Regions from separate parts of the Homo sapiens genome. Here region 2 is linked to region 1. A link means that fine-mapping ties the variant in region 1 to the expression of a gene that starts in the linked region. Tissue or cell type: whole blood. Region 1 holds a variant in brackets; the other region holds the start of a gene. All regions are shown on one strand. Distances are between the middles of the regions.

The links. PIP is the estimated chance that this variant, and not a neighbour inherited with it, causes the effect.
Region 2: CILP starts here. The variant in region 1 is fine-mapped to the expression of CILP in whole blood (TOPMed, PIP above 0.99). The same link has a PIP of 0.9 or more in blood mononuclear cells.

What each region holds. Positions count from the first base shown.
Region 1 is chr15:65,243,994-65,252,097 of GRCh38, reverse strand. It overlaps a transcript of PARP16 not described here. Among named protein-coding and RNA genes, the nearest start is that of CILP, 37 kb to the right of the region's middle. The variant G/A (reference allele first, on the strand shown) is at 3,999.
Region 2 is chr15:65,206,987-65,215,089 of GRCh38, reverse strand. It overlaps CILP (cartilage intermediate layer protein), which reads left to right and starts at 3,617. Exons shown (of 9, transcript NM_003613.4): 1 at 3,617-3,662; 2 at 5,229-5,395; 3 at 7,326-7,418; 4 at 8,039-8,103. The coding sequence starts at 5,335. RefSeq lists an enhancer at 2,087-2,988.

The DNA of each region.
Region 1 (8,104 bases):
CAGCCTCAGTGATTGCTTCAAACCTAGGCATGTGGGCCGGGTGCAGTGGCTTACACCTGTAATCCCAGCACTTTGGGAGGCCGAGGCGGGTGGATCACGAGGTCAGGAGATCGAGACCATCCTGGCTAACACGGTGAAACCCCGTCTCTACTAAAAATACAAAAAATTAGCCGGGCGGGGTGGTGGGCGCCTGTAGTCCCAGCTACTCGGGAGGCTGAGGCAGGAGAATGGCATGAATCCGGGAGGTGGAGCTTGCAGTGAGCTGAGATCATGCCACTGCACTCCAGCCTGGGCGACAGAGCGAGATTCCATCTCAAAAAAGCAAACAAACGAACAAAAAAAAAACCTAGGCATGTGACCCAACTAGTATCTCATCAAAATGAGCCACGAGTTTTGAGATAATAGTATCTCATTTTGATATAATAATAGTATCTCATATCTTTTGATGAGATAATAGTATCTCATCAAAATGAACCATAAGTTTTGCTGGGGATCCTGGGAAAGAGACTTGCATTTTCAGTGGTCCTGAATGTGAGAGGCTGCCATCTGGCTGCCATGCAAAGTCTCAGACTGATGCCAACACAGTGGAAAGCAGAGCTGCTGTCCTGATGACGTTGTTTTGAGTACTGAATCCAGTTGTGCTTGAAGCCAGACTTTTCACTTAGGTGACCAATAAATACATTCCTTTTTATTTAACAGAGTAAGTTGGGTCTTAACGGGGAATAAACGTGGGTAGATCTTAACTGATAGCCTTTGCCATCCTGGAGCATCATTATTTTTAATGTAAATCCTTTGTTAACTATAGAAAGGTGTGAATTCCAAACTAGTGAGTCTGGATTGATGAAGTTTGACTGTCCTGACCCTTGGACTATCCCCACAAGGCACTCAAACCTGTGCAAAATAAGAGATGGGAGGCAGGGGCATGGTGACTCATGCCTGTAATCCCAGCACTTTGGGAGGCTGAAGCCTGCAGATCACTTGAAGTCAGGAGTTTGAGACCAGCCTGGCCAACATGGTGAAACCCCGTCTCTACTAAAAATACAAAAATTAACTGGGCATGGTGGTGCACGCCTGTAATCCCAGCTACTCGGGAGGCTGAGGCACGAGAATCGCTTGGACCTGGGAGGCAAAGGTTGTAGCGAGGCGGAGGTTGAGTGAGCCAAGATCGCACCACTGCACTCCAGCCTGGGCAGCAGAGTGAGACTCCGTCTCTAAATAAATAAATAAGAGATGGGAAAAACACACACACGCGCGCCACTGTGTTTTGGGGCCTTCTGCAGCCTCAGTCTCAAGGGGCCTCCTTCGGTCAGCTTGGACTGGCTTCTGGCCTCAGAAACCTCAGGGCCCATCAAAGTCCGGAAGCAGCAATGGGTAGGTCTGACCAGGGCTGTGGCTGTAAACTACACTGGAGGAGCCTGGCCCTCAGGAAGACCAGAGATGCAGTCTGCAGCAGTAGGAGAAGGGAGGAAGGAAAAGGATGCTACCGTGTATCAAGTGCCTCCTGCATGATGTGCATATTAAAAGAATTATCTCATTTAATCTTCACAGTATCCCTGCAAGGCAGATACTATTCTGTTTATTTTACAGAAGAAACAGGTTTGGAGATGACTTGTGCAAGGTTAAAAGGCCAGAAAGAGGCAGAACCAGGGCTGACTCTAAAGGAATAAGAAAGGCAGGCATGGCCAGGCACAGTGGCTCACGCCTGTAATCCCAGCACTTTGGGAGGCTGAGGTGGGCAGATCACTTGAGGTCAGGAGTTCGAGACCAGCCTGGCCAACATGGTGAAACCCCGTCTGTACTAAAAACACAAAAATCAGCTGGGCATGGTGGCGCGCGCCTGTAATCCCAGCTACTGGGCAGGCTGAGACAGGAGAATCGCTTGAACCTGGGAGGCGGGGGTTGCAGTGAGCTGAGGTCGCACCATTGCACTCCAGCCTGGATAACAGAGAGAGACTCTGTCTCAAAAAAAAAAAAAAAAAAAAAAAAAAAAGGCAAGCAGGTGCAAGGCTGCAGCTAGAGGGGCTGTCTGAGCAAAGAAGACCTAGGCTGGTGGCATAGGAAGACAAGAGTGCCGACACCAGGCCCAGTGAATAGAAAACGAGTTCCCTTTCCAGACTGGGGTTGTGAGCTCTGCTCTGTTTTATGAGCAGAAGGCACCTGCAATGTCAGAAGTGGAAACCATGGGAAGTCCCCCAACACCCACTCAATCAGAGCTCTGAGCTCATCTCCTGTAACCTTCCCAGCCCCATCATTGCAGACCCAGGAGGTGAGCCCAGAGGCACACATGGCACTGAATGTGGGGCAGGAAGGGGATGGCCCCTCCCTTCCACCCCCACTGCCTGCTCAAGCTATCAGCCTGCTCTGATTAAGTTGAAATTTTTGAGACCTTGCATCCAGGGGCTGCTGGCAGCCAAATCCCCCTGATTGCCTGAGATGTTCCTCACATCAGAGAACAAACAGTCACCCCTTTCTGGCCAGCTGGGCTCAGCAGCATTCCTGTCTCCAGTCCTGCCTGGCTGGGTGGGGCTGCAGCCCTTCGTCCACCTCCAGCAGAGGCCTGGAGGATCTGGTGAGTGGGTACAAGGGAGAAGGAAGGTAGCTGTCTGTCTCCAGGTTGAACGAGACATTTCTCCTGAGTCCCCATTTTGCCCCAGCACTGGGCACCTCAGCCTCAAGCCACTCCAGGCACAAGTCCTGTGTTTGTAATATGACTGTCACTTAAGAGGAGGCCCCCACTGGGCCACTGTCCCTGGGGTGGGAGCCCCTTCACCCCCGCCCAGGGGCTGCCTGGGGAATTAGATTCCCACACCATTCCAGCTAGATCTGAAGTCGTCACACTCAAATGGCTCATTTTACAAAAGTGGACACAGTCCACAGAGTTGAGACAGAAGCAGGACTAGAACACTGGCCTTTAATTCCCACAGCCTTGAGATGCTGTGGTTTGGATGACGCTAGGGGCTCTGAGCAAGAGGAGCTGCCCATGTTTTTGCAGAGAAGCAGGAGTGTTTTCGTCCCCTAGGCCTGTTTTGAAGATCAGGCTGGTGGCTGAGCGGTTTCCTAAGGAAGCAAGGCTTCTGGAAAAGCGCTATTCACTAGATGCTCCTAAATCATCTAGTTGGCAATAGAGCTGGGGCAGTGGAACCTGAGTGTGCTCTGCCACCATCCAGCGTCCAGCCTGGCCTTAGTCAGGCTTTGGGAGGCAACTGGGGACCAAGGGCAGAGTCCTTGGGAAGGCATAGCTCCCCACAACGTATAACATCTGCTTCCCTAACCTAGGACTCTGGCCTGGGTCTGTGGGGGAGGAGGAAGAGCCGGCTTTTTCAGCCAGTCTGCAAAAGGAATTCTAGGAACCCCCTCTGGCCGCAGACAGGAGGGGGAAGGAGGCAGACAGTGTGGGATCCAGGGGCAGTCCAGGAGTCTATGGACAAATGTCTCACTCCCAGTCTGTTTTGGGCCTGCAGCTTTGCCTTTGTCTAGCTGAGCAGATCAGGGTGGGTTTGTGTGACTTCTGGGTTTGTGTGTGTAGGCAGCTGCATTGCTGGTTGCAGCTGTTCCTCGGTAGAAAGTATGTACTTGTGTGTTTCCCTGTATGTAAGTATTCACATCTGTATAAGCCCATGTATGTGAGTATCTTTGAGGGAAAGTGTGGGCCTCTACTGCTTGCATAGTTGAATTGGTCTACCACCTGCCTACGTGTGTTTGTGGGGGTACTCATGAGGTTATTTTGGTGTAAATAATATGTCAGTGAGCCTCTGAAAGCACATATGCCTATTTGTGCAGAAGCATTCATTCACTCATTCTTGATTTATGATTTACTAATTTACTTGGACATTTTTAAAGTACTTGTTCTGTGATTGTCCCCACACTAGGCACTGGGAATCTGAAGAGGTGTCTGTGGCCAGAGTAAAGCCAGAGTGTGGCCATCTAAAGGGTGGGCCCAGGACAAGGGCCTCATGGAAAGGAACTGTGGAAAGTAGAGAGGTAAGAACAATCCGGCC[G/A]GGAGCGGTGGCTCACGCCTGTAATCCCAGCACTTTGGGAGGCCGAGGCGGGCGGATCACAAGGTCAGGAGATCGAGACCATCCTGGCTAACACGGTGAAACCCCACCTCTACTAAAAATACAGAAAATTAGCCGGGCGTGGTGGCGGACGCCTGTAGTCCCAGCTACTCAGGAGGCTGAGACAGGAAAATGGCATGAACCCGGGAAGTGGAGGTTGCAGTGAGCCGAGATTGCGCCACTGCACTCCAGCCTAGGCAACAAAGCAAGACTCCGTCTCAAAAAAAAAAAAAAAAAAAAAAAAGAACAATCCATTGGTCTAAGTGCCTGTGTGTGTTATCGCCTGTGTATACATGTCTCTGTGTGTCTGTCTGTGTGAATGTTCATATGTGTTTTTCCTAGAGGGTAGAACTCACAGCTCTCCAGCCATCCATTCCCTTGCCTGGGTAGACAGGCTGGGGTGGTGAGAGGGCAGTGACCTAAGAGTCCAAGATACTAGTCCTGTGCTCAGCTTAGACTCACTGTGATCTGGCCTCTCATCTGTAGAATGAAAGGGTTAGATCACCTCATCATTAATTGTATAGGCCTTGTGTGGTTTACAGAAGGAGGGTGATTGATTCCTGGGTTAATTAATTACTTTTTAGAGGTCAAATTGGAAGATGCCTAATTTTAGAAGCTCTGGGTTCAGACAGAACTCAGTTTGAATCCCAGCTCTGCCATATGGATTTTGTGTCCTTTGGAGTTATTTAACCTCATCAGGATTGTTGTGAGGATTAAATAAAATAATGTGTGTAAAGTGTTGAGCATGGGCCAGGTGTGGCGGTTCATGCCTGTAATCCCAGCATTTCGGGAGGCCAAGTCAGGAGCATCACTTGAGGTCAGGAGTTCGAGACCAGCCTGGGCAACATAGCCAGACCCCTGTCTCTACAACAAATTTTTAAAAAATTAGCCCAGCTTGATGACCTGTGCCGATAGTCCTGGCTACTCAGGAGGCTAAGGCTGGAAGACTGCTTGAGCCCAGGAGGTCGAGGCTGCAGTGAGCTATGATCACACCACTGCACTCCAGCCTGGGCAACAGAGCGAGACCCTGTCTTGGGAAAAAAAAAATTGTTGAGCATGATGCCAGGCACATAGTAGATGTTCAATAAATATTAGCTTCTGTTCTTATCTACAGACTTTCCAGCTTTCATATCTTACAAATGTTGGGTTCAGTAGACACGTTGACAAATTGAATTCATGTAAACCACATGTTTAGGGAATTCTGGCCCTATGGTGGTTGGGGGTGGGGACAGTGGGGGAGAAAATCTGGCCCTTTCTTCGGTACCTTCTAAGAAGTTGCCAACTGAGATCTGTGTGAGCCACTCCCTTCACCCCATTCTCTGATGTGGATCCTTGACATCTTCTCAGTCTTGTGTACAGATAAGTACTATGAAAGACAGGTTCAACACCCTCTTCTGACCTGATTCTGCCCCTGAGCCCCTACCCAGTGAGGCAGGATGTTGAGCTAAATAGGATCAGGCCACAGGGCAGAGCTGGGTCAGGTAAGTCTTCAAGCTCCCTGACATGTCTGTGCCTGCCTGACCAGCCCCAGTATGGGCACATCCAGACAGGCGGAGGGCGTCTGCCTCCCATGATTGATATTGCTGGGAGCGCATCGCTCTGCTCCTGGCTCAGGTGGCTGAGAATCATAGAGCACCTGAGAGACCAAGGAGACCTCCATGACCCCTGTGCCCTCAAGGCCTCTGGAATGGCTGAGTTCCAGCAGGTACAAGGAGAGTTGGGGGCGGTCCGGAGATAGTGCCTCTCAGCCAGGGTTGCTGGGGGTGACTATCTCGGGAATCCCCTAGAGCCTGTTAAAGCTGGCAGCTCTTATGCTCTCCCAAAATATCCCTGACCTGGAGGGACTGAGGGAGGGGTTTAGGGTGCAGCCAGGGTTGCTGAGTTGGGAAATTCTCTGGAAGTGAGCTCAGGGTGGCCGAGGCCCTGAGAGAAGCAGGGAGAGGGTCTGCCTGGAGGTCATGCTGGCCACCCCAATGGCCATCCCCAACATGGGTCACAGATAATTGGTTTGATGTTCTCTCAGCTCTAAGAGTTACCCTGGAGATGGGAGTAACTTAAACTGCAAAAGGCCCTCTGGGAGTCATTGTGACGGCCCCTCACCATATCTGGCTGCTCTGCTTGGGGCCAGAACTAGGAATTTTCCTCTTGAAAAAAATTGAAAGCAAGAGAGCAGGCAATGGGTTGTGGCCAAAGTAATGTGTTTAAGGAAATTTCTGCTTCATGCTGGCCAGGACAGGGAATGTCTGGTCAAATAGCTGCTGACGGCCAGGGTCCCTGTAAGTAAACAGGCCGCCTCTGATGGCTGTCCTGAGCTCATTTCCCTCAGCAGCGTGCAAGGGGATGATGTCACCATGAGTGGGGCCTCCTGGTCATGGAGTTTGTCAGTGAGCAGGATGGAAGCTCGGTGATTGCTGGCGGCCTGGGTGCTGTGGCCTAGTTATTGCAAACAGCTGCTTCCATACAAGCAGCTCTGACACCCTCCTACACATACTCCATGGGACTCTAGCCACATCCATGACCCCACAGCAGCGGTGTTCCTGGCGAGATCTGGGATTAACTGTCCCATATCCAGCTTCTATCCAAAGCCTCTTCCCTCAGCCAGAGAGCTGGGCTTCCCCTGGTCTATGAAGGGCACAACTTCAGTTGTAAGGAGTGGCCCCTAGAGGTACAGGCTCATGTTCTGCCCCTGCAGAGAGCAGATAGTGGCAACGTGTCCTACCGCCTGTCTCCTGGGGCTAGGCAGCCAGGTCCAGAGGGGGACTTTCCATGAGCAGAGAGCCCAGGTCAGGGGAGGTTAGGAGGTGGGGTGGCGAGGAAGCCACAAAGCCCTCTCTGTGCCTCCCCCACAGGCTCTTCCTGAGCCTTGCAGCCACGAGGTGAGGTTCATGGGATTTGAAAGCCCTGCAGCAGAATTACTGAGGAGCAGCTGCCAGTTTGGGACAGGCTCTATAGCCTCCCCACTCCCCCAGGCCATCCCTGTGTCACCTCCTGGCCAGGGAATGGGGAGCAGTAAGACTCTAAATAGAGATGGGCAAGAATCTTCTTAGGGGTAGGCCTGGGCCTTTTCCTTCTTGTATCCCCCCAGCATCCTGGCCTGGCTTTGCAGTTGGCTTGTCAGTCATACAGACCAACCCCACAGAGTAAGTGGCCCACTCAACAGCTGCCTGACCTACTCCAGGCTGACCAAATCCTCAGACCAACCAACAGGCTCACAGGAGACTCACTACTTCTGTGATGTACAGCCTGATTAACCAATAGGCCATCCTGTTAGTCTACATATTCAACAAATAGTCATTGAACACTTAGTTTGTGCCAGATCTTGTGCTGGCTGCAGGGGATACAGCCATAAACAAGACAGACAAGATCCTTGCTCTTAAGGCACTGAAAGTAAGCCATATGGCTTGGCTGTGTCCCCACCTAAATCTCATCTTGAATTGTAATTCCCATAATTCCCATGTGTTGTGGGAGGGACCCGGTGGGAGATCATTGAGTCATGGGGGCGGGTCTTTCCCGTGCTGCTCTCATGACAGTGAATAAGTCTCACGAGATCTGATGGTTTTATAAAGGGGAGTTCTCTTGCACACACTCTCTTGCCTGCTGCCATGTAAGATGTGACTTTGCTCTTCCTTCATCTTCCGCCATGATTGTGAGGCCTCCAAGCCATGCGGAACTGTGAGTCCATTAAACCTCTTTCCTTTATAAATTACCCAGTCTTGGGTATGTCTTTATTAGCAGCATGAGAACAGACTAATATAGTAAGTAAACAATGATGGAGTGTGATCTGTATATTATATATTATATGAAGGAAGTAAATGAGATTATGTGGGAGATAGTATCCAGCAGGCCATCCCCTGGATATAACAAAAGTCAGGGAAGACCTTCCTGACACATTATCTGAGACCTGGAGATTGAGAATGAGAAACGACCATGCAAAGAGCCTGTGGAAGATCTTACCAGATGGAGAAAGGCAATGCCAAGGGCTTGAGGTGGGGAAGAGCTTGGCATACTCTTGGGATAGCCAGAAGACCCATATTACTGGAACATGGTGA
Region 2 (8,103 bases), 37 kb after region 1:
TGTTCCCAAGCTCCTTTCCCCACTGCAGGGTGCAGGGTGTGGACCCCTGGCTATAGGCTTGGGTTACAGGTGGCCTAGCTAAGCTGGGTTCCAAGTCCCTTCATCCCCTGGGCAGGGATGGGGTGATTGATGGGTTTCCAGCATGTTCCAGGCAGAAGCTTGGAGTGGCTGCAGAGTAGCCTGGCTTGCAGAAGCCCCAGATGGCCACTCGTGGCTGAGGCTGACCCACCCAGGCCAGGCCTTGGACAGTCTAGACCTACGGCCACCTCCAAAGCCCTCTCTATTCTGGGGTCCTGGTTGAGGACAGCAATAGCTTCCCCCCCAAAGGAGTCCTGGGAAGAGAGAGTGAGGGCAGGCTCAGATTTCCCCAGTCTAGCCCTGTGCAGCTCACACAGCTCATTCCTACTTGGAGACAGGAAAGGACTCTGATGGGAGTATGGGAGGAGGCAAGATATGAGACAGGTGGACGGAAATGGCATGGTGGAATTGGAACGCAGCCCTCAACCCTGTACTTACCATATTAACACGCACTGGCCACTTGGGGCTAGGTAAGTGAGGGCCTCAGTGTGAGTGCTGGGCTGAATGAGGAGACCCAGGCAGGAATCCTGGCCTAAAACACTCCACTTTGCCCAATCCTCACCCATAGGGTACCCTGCCTCCCACTACAGAAAGAGATGGAGGTGACTGGGAGGCTGGGGAGGCGTCTCTTACCCACCCTGGCATTCCACAGAATGAAGGCCTTGGAGAGCAGCTGATTACCCTGACCTTGCCCTCTGGTTTACCTCCCACTACCTTCCTTTCCTGTGTATCTCTCTTGCTGTCCTTATCCAGCCTTGGTGGTCATATCTGCTTCTCTGGACTTCCTCCTGACCTTGACTCCACACTGGCTCCTCTGACTTCTGCCAGACACGTAGGAGCAGTCGTTCCCTCCACTCTCTCCTCCCAGCTCTGTTTGCTGTCAGTACAGATGGTCCCCAACTTAGGATGATTCAAGTTACAATTTTCCGACTTTATGATGTGCAAATGTGACACAAATTCAGTAGAAACTGTACTTTCCTGTACAACCATTGTGTTTTTCACTTTCAGTACAGTATTCAATGTATCACATGAGATAATCAATACTTTATGGTAAAATAGGCTTTTTGTTAGATGGTTTCGTACAACTGTAGGCTACTGTAGGCTAATGTAAGTGTTCTGAACATATTTAAGGTAGGCTAGGCTAAGTTCTGATGTTCAGTAGGTTAGGTGCATTAAGCGTATTTTTTTTACTTATGATATTTTCAACTTACAGTGGGTTTATTGGGACATTACTATAAGCCAAAGAGCATCTGTATATCTCAAACCTTGCAATCTCAGAGCTGGCAGGGGCCTGCAAACTCACTCAGTCCATCTCCCGTTGCACACCTGAGGCCCAGGGTTACTTGGGTTCTTGCTAGTTCACGGTCGCATATCAGAATCAGAAACAGCCAGGACTAGGCTTCTGAATTCCAAATTTCAATTTTTCTCCTGTCCTTTGATCTGGGGATTGTGGCTCAGCCTGTCTGTCTGTCTATTCCTTAGGCCATCAGATTTCACATGGGGTTCACTCAGTTCAGACGTCTGCAGTCAAAGCCATGGCTGAAACTGAGTCATGGCTTGGCTCTGACAAGTTGGACCAGACTAGGGCCAACTACAGGGCTTATGAACCAAGGGCTGGTGGCCAGGAGGGAGACGGGGCTCCAGGAGATAAAGCAAATCAGATCTATGCCCCAGGTCTACTTGGGAACCATGCTGCTCAACATCCTTTCTCCACCCCCACTCTCTTCCCCAGCAGATTTTTTTTTTTTTTTTTTTAGACCAAGTCTCACTCTGTCACCCAGGCTGGAGTGCAGTGGCACGATCTCAACTCACTGCATCCTCTGCCTCCTGGGTTCAAGCCACTCTCCTGCCTCAGTCTCCCAAGTAGCTGGGATTACAGGCACACTCCACCATGCCTGGCTAGTTTTTCTATTTTTAGTAGAGATGGGTTTCACTATGTTGACCAGGCTGGTCTTGAACTCCTGACCTCAAGTGATCCACCCGCCCCTGTCTCCCACAGTGTTGGGATTACAGGCGTGAGCCACTCCACCCAGCCTCCCAGTATATCTTGTCAAAGGCAATGCTCAGAAAAAACAGCTCTTACGCACACATACACACACACACACAGAAAGACACATACACACAGGAAAAGGCATAAACACACACACACAGAACTCTCTGGCATGTGGGTATGCACTGTTGTACTACGGGATCATTTCCACGTGAGGCTCTTTCCTCTGAGTGCAAGGATACATCTCTTTTCTTGTGCCTTCCCAGTGCCCAGTCTAGAGCCTGGGAATAAGAGCTCGGTAAAGGTATGTGGAGAGAGTGAGCTGACCCTGGCGTGGATGGCCACAGGACCAGGCCTCCATCTCCAGTTGCTGGCATGAGGCAGGAAGCCCAGCCCAGGCTAGATGAGCCTGCTACATGGGGCAGGACCTGGGAAGCTCCCACTGTGGTCCTTAGTACACTCGCTCTTCATCTTCTTCCTTCAACTGGGGCTCTATCACTGTGACCAGTCAATCTCAAAATGTGATCCATGAACCAACAGCATCAATCTCATCTGGGAACTTGTTAGAATGCAAAGTCTCAGGCCCCACTGAATCAGAAACTCTGGGTGTGGGGTCCAGAAATCTGCTTTAACCGCCCTCCAGGTGATTCTAACACATGCTAAAATTAGAGAACCAGTGTCTGTGCAAACAGATAACCTCATGCTGGGGCCAGGGGGCCGGGAGTGGGGGTGTGAAGCCCCAGAGCACATGCAGCTGCATACGCCCCCTATGGGTAACACTGGCTGTTCACATGCTGGTGGATGCCTATACCTGAAGGCAGACACGTACTCACACGCATGCACATATATGAGCATCAGGGTCTCAGAAGAGTCCACATGCTGGAGCTCTGGGGTCTCAGTGGGTACCAGCAGGCACTCAGATGGAAGTGGGGGGGAGAAAGGAAGAACTGTTCTCACCAGCTGACAACCTATGCCCCACAATTCTTTTGTCCCTTATCCCTTCTGAGGTTCCCTGAGTGTTCCCTCAGAAGCCAGAGAAGCTGAGTAGTTGCCCAACTCAGACCAGACACACCCAGCTGAGAGGCCAAGGTGGCCTGTGTGCCTAAGAGTGTTTGGAGTATGTGCTAAGACCAGCAAAGTCTTTTCTCTGTGTGGGCGAGCCAGGGCCAGGGGAATGTGGGGCATCAGCAAGCTAGGCTTAGGCAAGAGCACACCATCCCCCGGGCCATGAAATGCTGCCCAGATCTAGAATTCCCCGTGGCCCCTTCCCAGGGCTGTTTCTAGTGCCCAGCCCACCTCCTGACCCCTCTCTCTGCTCTGGACTGTGATGCCCCAGGCCACTGCCCACCTGGCCCATCACCAGGTCCTGCGGCATCTCCTCCTTAGGATCTGGACATAAAATCCTGGCCTCTGTGAACTGCAAGGGGACATGGGGAGGGGAGAGGGAGGCTCATGCTCAGATCTGGTTTCGCTGCTGCTTCCTCTGGCTGGCTGCCACAGGCTGAGCCACCAGCTGTGCTATATAAGGCCGGCACTGGACTGCTGGAGAGGCGAAGGCTTGGACCCCCAGCTGAGGAGTCCTGCTCAAGACACGGTGAGCTCCACTCCTATTCCCCTCACCCCATCCCTGCACCCCACTGCTGGACTCAACTGCTCCTGCCCTCCCCTGACTACTCCATTCCCTTCTCCCCACTTCCCCCCACTTTTTGCTGCCTGATCCTTCATCTCCCACAGAGAAGACTCCCTTTCTGCTTTGGGAATCTGCTTTCCCCCATTGGCCCAAAGTCCTCTCCCTCCCCCACCTGAGGACAGGAACCCCCAGATGGTCCCACTTAGGGTTTCCATACCTCTGGGTGCCCTGCTTTATTCCCTGCGGTCAGCCAGTCTGCTTTGTCCAAGTGTTCTGAGGAGCGTGGGATGGCAAGCCTAACCATCAGGGCATATGCTGAGGAAACGGCGGAGATGCTGAGAAACCTCTGTGGGCTGCCAGATGGGAAATGGTTTTTCCACAAGGTGTCTCAGGCCACCTCAGCCTCCAGACATCCCTGGAGCAGGCTCAGGCTCAGGCTGAATGCAGTGCAGGCCAGCAGACTGCTCAGCTCCCTGCTTGGAGCCCAGAGGGATACACACAATGTGGAGGCCTTTGGGACGTCCTGGTGACTCTGCTCCCTCATCCGAGAAACAGGTAGTGGTGGGGCCAGTGGTTTTAGAGCTAGAAGGTCTGCAGCATGGGACTGGTTTTTTCTTCCCCTGGAATATCCCAGTGTTTTCAGATATGTGTATTTTTTAGAGAGGAGGACTCTTCCCTTTCCTACCACACCCTGGACTTAGGATGTTGAAGGGAACCACTTTTGAATCCCCAGAAACGAGTCAGATTCTGGGTTGGCCGGAGCTCTGGGGAGACATAAAAATGTTCTGCTCAGCTGCGGCCTGGGCCACGCACGCCCCATAGTTCCTTGCCCTTGTCCCAGGCCTGCTTTCCTCTCCTGACCCTTGCAGTTCCTCACCCACGCTCAGCAGTTACTGGGGAGCCCTGGCCTCTCACAATGCATCCCCTCTGCTTTCCGTCAGCTGGCTCCTGGCTGTGTAACTCCCAGTCAGGCCCCAAACAAAAAGGCCAGAAATGTGTTCCAGCTGCAGCCCGTGCACATCTGGGAATGTGTTCATGGAGGTGGTATGTCCGAGGCATCTGCACCCTCCAGCCAGCCTGCCTTATGAGAGGCCACTGGAGTCGGAGCCAAGTCTTCACGGCCTTAATATGTACCCGCCTGTGTGAGAGTGTGAACTCCATCAAAGGATGGCAAAACAAATGCCCCTCAGGCCTGGGTTTTAGAAGTGACGAGTCACCAAGAGGCTGCTGGGGGTGAGCCCTGGACTCTCCTCATTGCAAGGAACCTCCTCGCCCCTGCTTGTCCTTGTGCCTCATCTCCATGTGGGGCCCTGGAGCCTACCCCCAGGGATGGAACCTAGTCTGCCTCATTTGAACTCAGATTCTGAGCCTCTGCACCTCCCAAGCTACCTGGTTTCACAACTCAGGCAGATATCACTTTCATATCATTCTGTCCACCTTTCCCTCCTTGACAGGTCAAGAAATATTTCTGCTTGAGCCATAAGCGGTGATTCAGAAATATGAAACCTGACAAGCTTTGTTTCTTTACAGGTCACTGGATCTGAGAAACTTCCCAGGGGACCGCATTCCAGAGTCAGTGACTCTGTGAAGCACCCACATCTACCTCTTGCCACGTTCCCACGGGCTTGGGGGAAAGATGGTGGGGACCAAGGCCTGGGTGTTCTCCTTCCTGGTCCTGGAAGTCACATCTGTGTTGGGTATAGGCTAAGTATCTGCTGGCTCCCAAATCTTCCACTTGCCACAGTGAGGTTGTGTCTGGTCTGGGACTGAACTATGCATCTGCCTTAAGACACAGCAAGGCCTTAAGACCTGAGGCCACTTTATGGATTTATTCGTAATTTATACCCTGTTTGTTTTTCTCCAAAACTTGAGATTGTTCCCATTATTAAAACTCACAAAACAGAACCTTTATATGAGAAGAGGGATGAGCAGTCATTCAGAGGGAGGAAAAAAAGATAAGAGGGTTATTTTTAGCCCTTGAGTACCAAATTGAGCTCCGAGCTTCCTGGCAGCCAAAGTAATAGGGAATCACAGGGCATCAGTGAGATCTCAGAAGCAGGTTTGGGGTTTGGTCTGTTTTTAGTTTTATGAAGATTCTTTTGGCCCAAAGCTCAATTTCATTTAGACCCTGCAGCCAAATTTCACAGACACACCAGAACCCCTTCCGGTCTCCTTGCCCTCTGACTGCATCCTCTGGTGATACTGAGCTCTGGAAGGAACTCGTAGAAAGAATTTGTCTGGTGGAACAGAAGACTTCCCAAGGCATCTAAGCGTCAGCCCTCCCCTGCACACTCTCTCCCACCTCCTCCCCTTCCTCTCCTGATTTCTAAGCACATACTCAGGTAAAGCAAAAGCAAAAAAAAAAAAAAAAAAAAAAAAGCTCAAAACCCTCCTTTAAAGCTGTATGCCTTGCAGGATTTGTGGCTACAAATGCAGGAACAAAGGCTGTCTCAGCCTGGAGCCAACCCCTGTATGTGCCTGCCTCCTGCCTTGCTCTTTCCACCCTGACAGCTGCTGCTTGTGAAGATGATTAACATTCAACCATCTGAGGGGAAATCAGATTAGGTTGATTAAAAGAGCTCCTATCACCCCAATTAAGCAGCATAGAGAATTCTGATTTGGCTCCTGGAGTAAGCGTTAATTGCCTGTCAAAGCTTCTGCAGCCCTCTGCTCCGCATTCTCCTTCCCATTCTGGAGACCCCAACCCAGCCTCAGGTAGGGTACAGCTGGAACTGCTTGTGGCCCGAGGACCCTGTACCCATCCTCAGGCAGTCCCTGCCAGCCTCGTATGGAAAATTGAGGACCGCTGCCCCAATTAGGCCATAGGAGTCTTTATGGGAGAGTGGACTCCCAAGGGAAAGTAAATGGCCATCTATTCTGGCGTTGAGCTAAAAGAAGTTGCTAGCACTTATTCAGTATGCGTTATGTGCTAGGTGTTGTTCTAAGTGGATTTTATGAATGAGCTTATTTAATCCCCACAATACTCTAAGGCAGGAACTATCATTATCCTTATTTTATGATGAAAGAACATGGGGTCAGCTGGGTTAAGTAACTTGCCCAAAGTCACACAGTTAGAAACTGGCAGAGTCTCAGGAGCCCACACTGTCAATCTGCATATACTTCAGAGGCTTTTACGTTCTAGCTCATGGAATCCTCATGCCAACTGAATCACCCTGCGAGATGGGAATAAATATCTCCATTTTACACATGAGGAAAACAAAGCTCCATTTTGCCAAGAAGGTTTGGTGCAGACACCAAAGCAGGAGTCCCAGGCCACTGGCTGCTCAGGAGCATCTGATAATCCATTTCTAGAACAAGAGTGAAAAGGGAGATACCATTCACTGAGTGTGCACTACAAGCCAGGTCTCTTTACATTCATTATCACCTGAATAATGCACCAGGACCCTAGGATGCAGCAATTATTAGTGCATTCCTATTTTATGGGGAAACAGGCTCAGAGGAGTAAAGCTTTTCTGAGATTGCACAGCAATAAGTAGCAGAGTGGGGTTTGAACCCATGCCTGGTGCTCATGCTCCATTCACCACCTCACACTGTTTCCCTGCATCTTGAGGAATGCTGTAACTTCCAGTCCTGGCCTCTCACTTAGCTTCTCCTTCTGGCCCTCAGGGAGACAGACGATGCTCACCCAGTCAGTAAGAAGAGTCCAGCCTGGGAAGAAGAACCCCAGCATCTTTGCCAAGCCTGCCGACACCCTGGAGAGTGAGTTGTGGCTGAAGCAGGGAGGGGCTGGAGGGGCAGCCTTTAACGAGCTTCCGAAGTGGATCTCTGAAGCCAGGGCATGATGTCAGGGTCCCATGGAAACCCACTTTTACAAGCATTTGGCCTCCATCTCTGTCCAGCCAAGGAACTTAGTATATAAGACAGCTCAGAATCAGGAATCTGCCTGATACCTTTCAGGAATGCTGTGGAGCTTGCTGGGGCCAGAGCACAGGCTGGTGGGAAGGGAGTGGGGAGATGAGTATGGAGAGATGGCTGGGGACAGCTCACCAGCACCCTGAATGCCTAGCTAGACGATCTTAAAGCTGGAGGTGATGTGGCCCGAGCCACATGAAGAAAGCTCACCCTGACTGCAGGGTCAGGGATGGGTGTGAGTGGCATTGAGGAGGAGCCTTGATGTGGAAAGTGACTGACATGGTTCAGTCAGGCTGATGAGAGCTTGAATGGAGGCCTCAGCAGTGGCAGGTGTAAGAGGGGATTGGAGAGATACTGGAGAGACAAATGTGATAGGGCCTGAGGCCAGCTGGGGGTGGGTGAGAGGGAAAGGAGAACTGGAGCGCACCAGGATCACGGCTCCTCCGCAATTTGGCTATGTCTCTCAGGCCCTGGTGAGTGGACAACATGGTTCAACATCGACTACCCAGGCGGGAAGGGCGACTATGAGCGG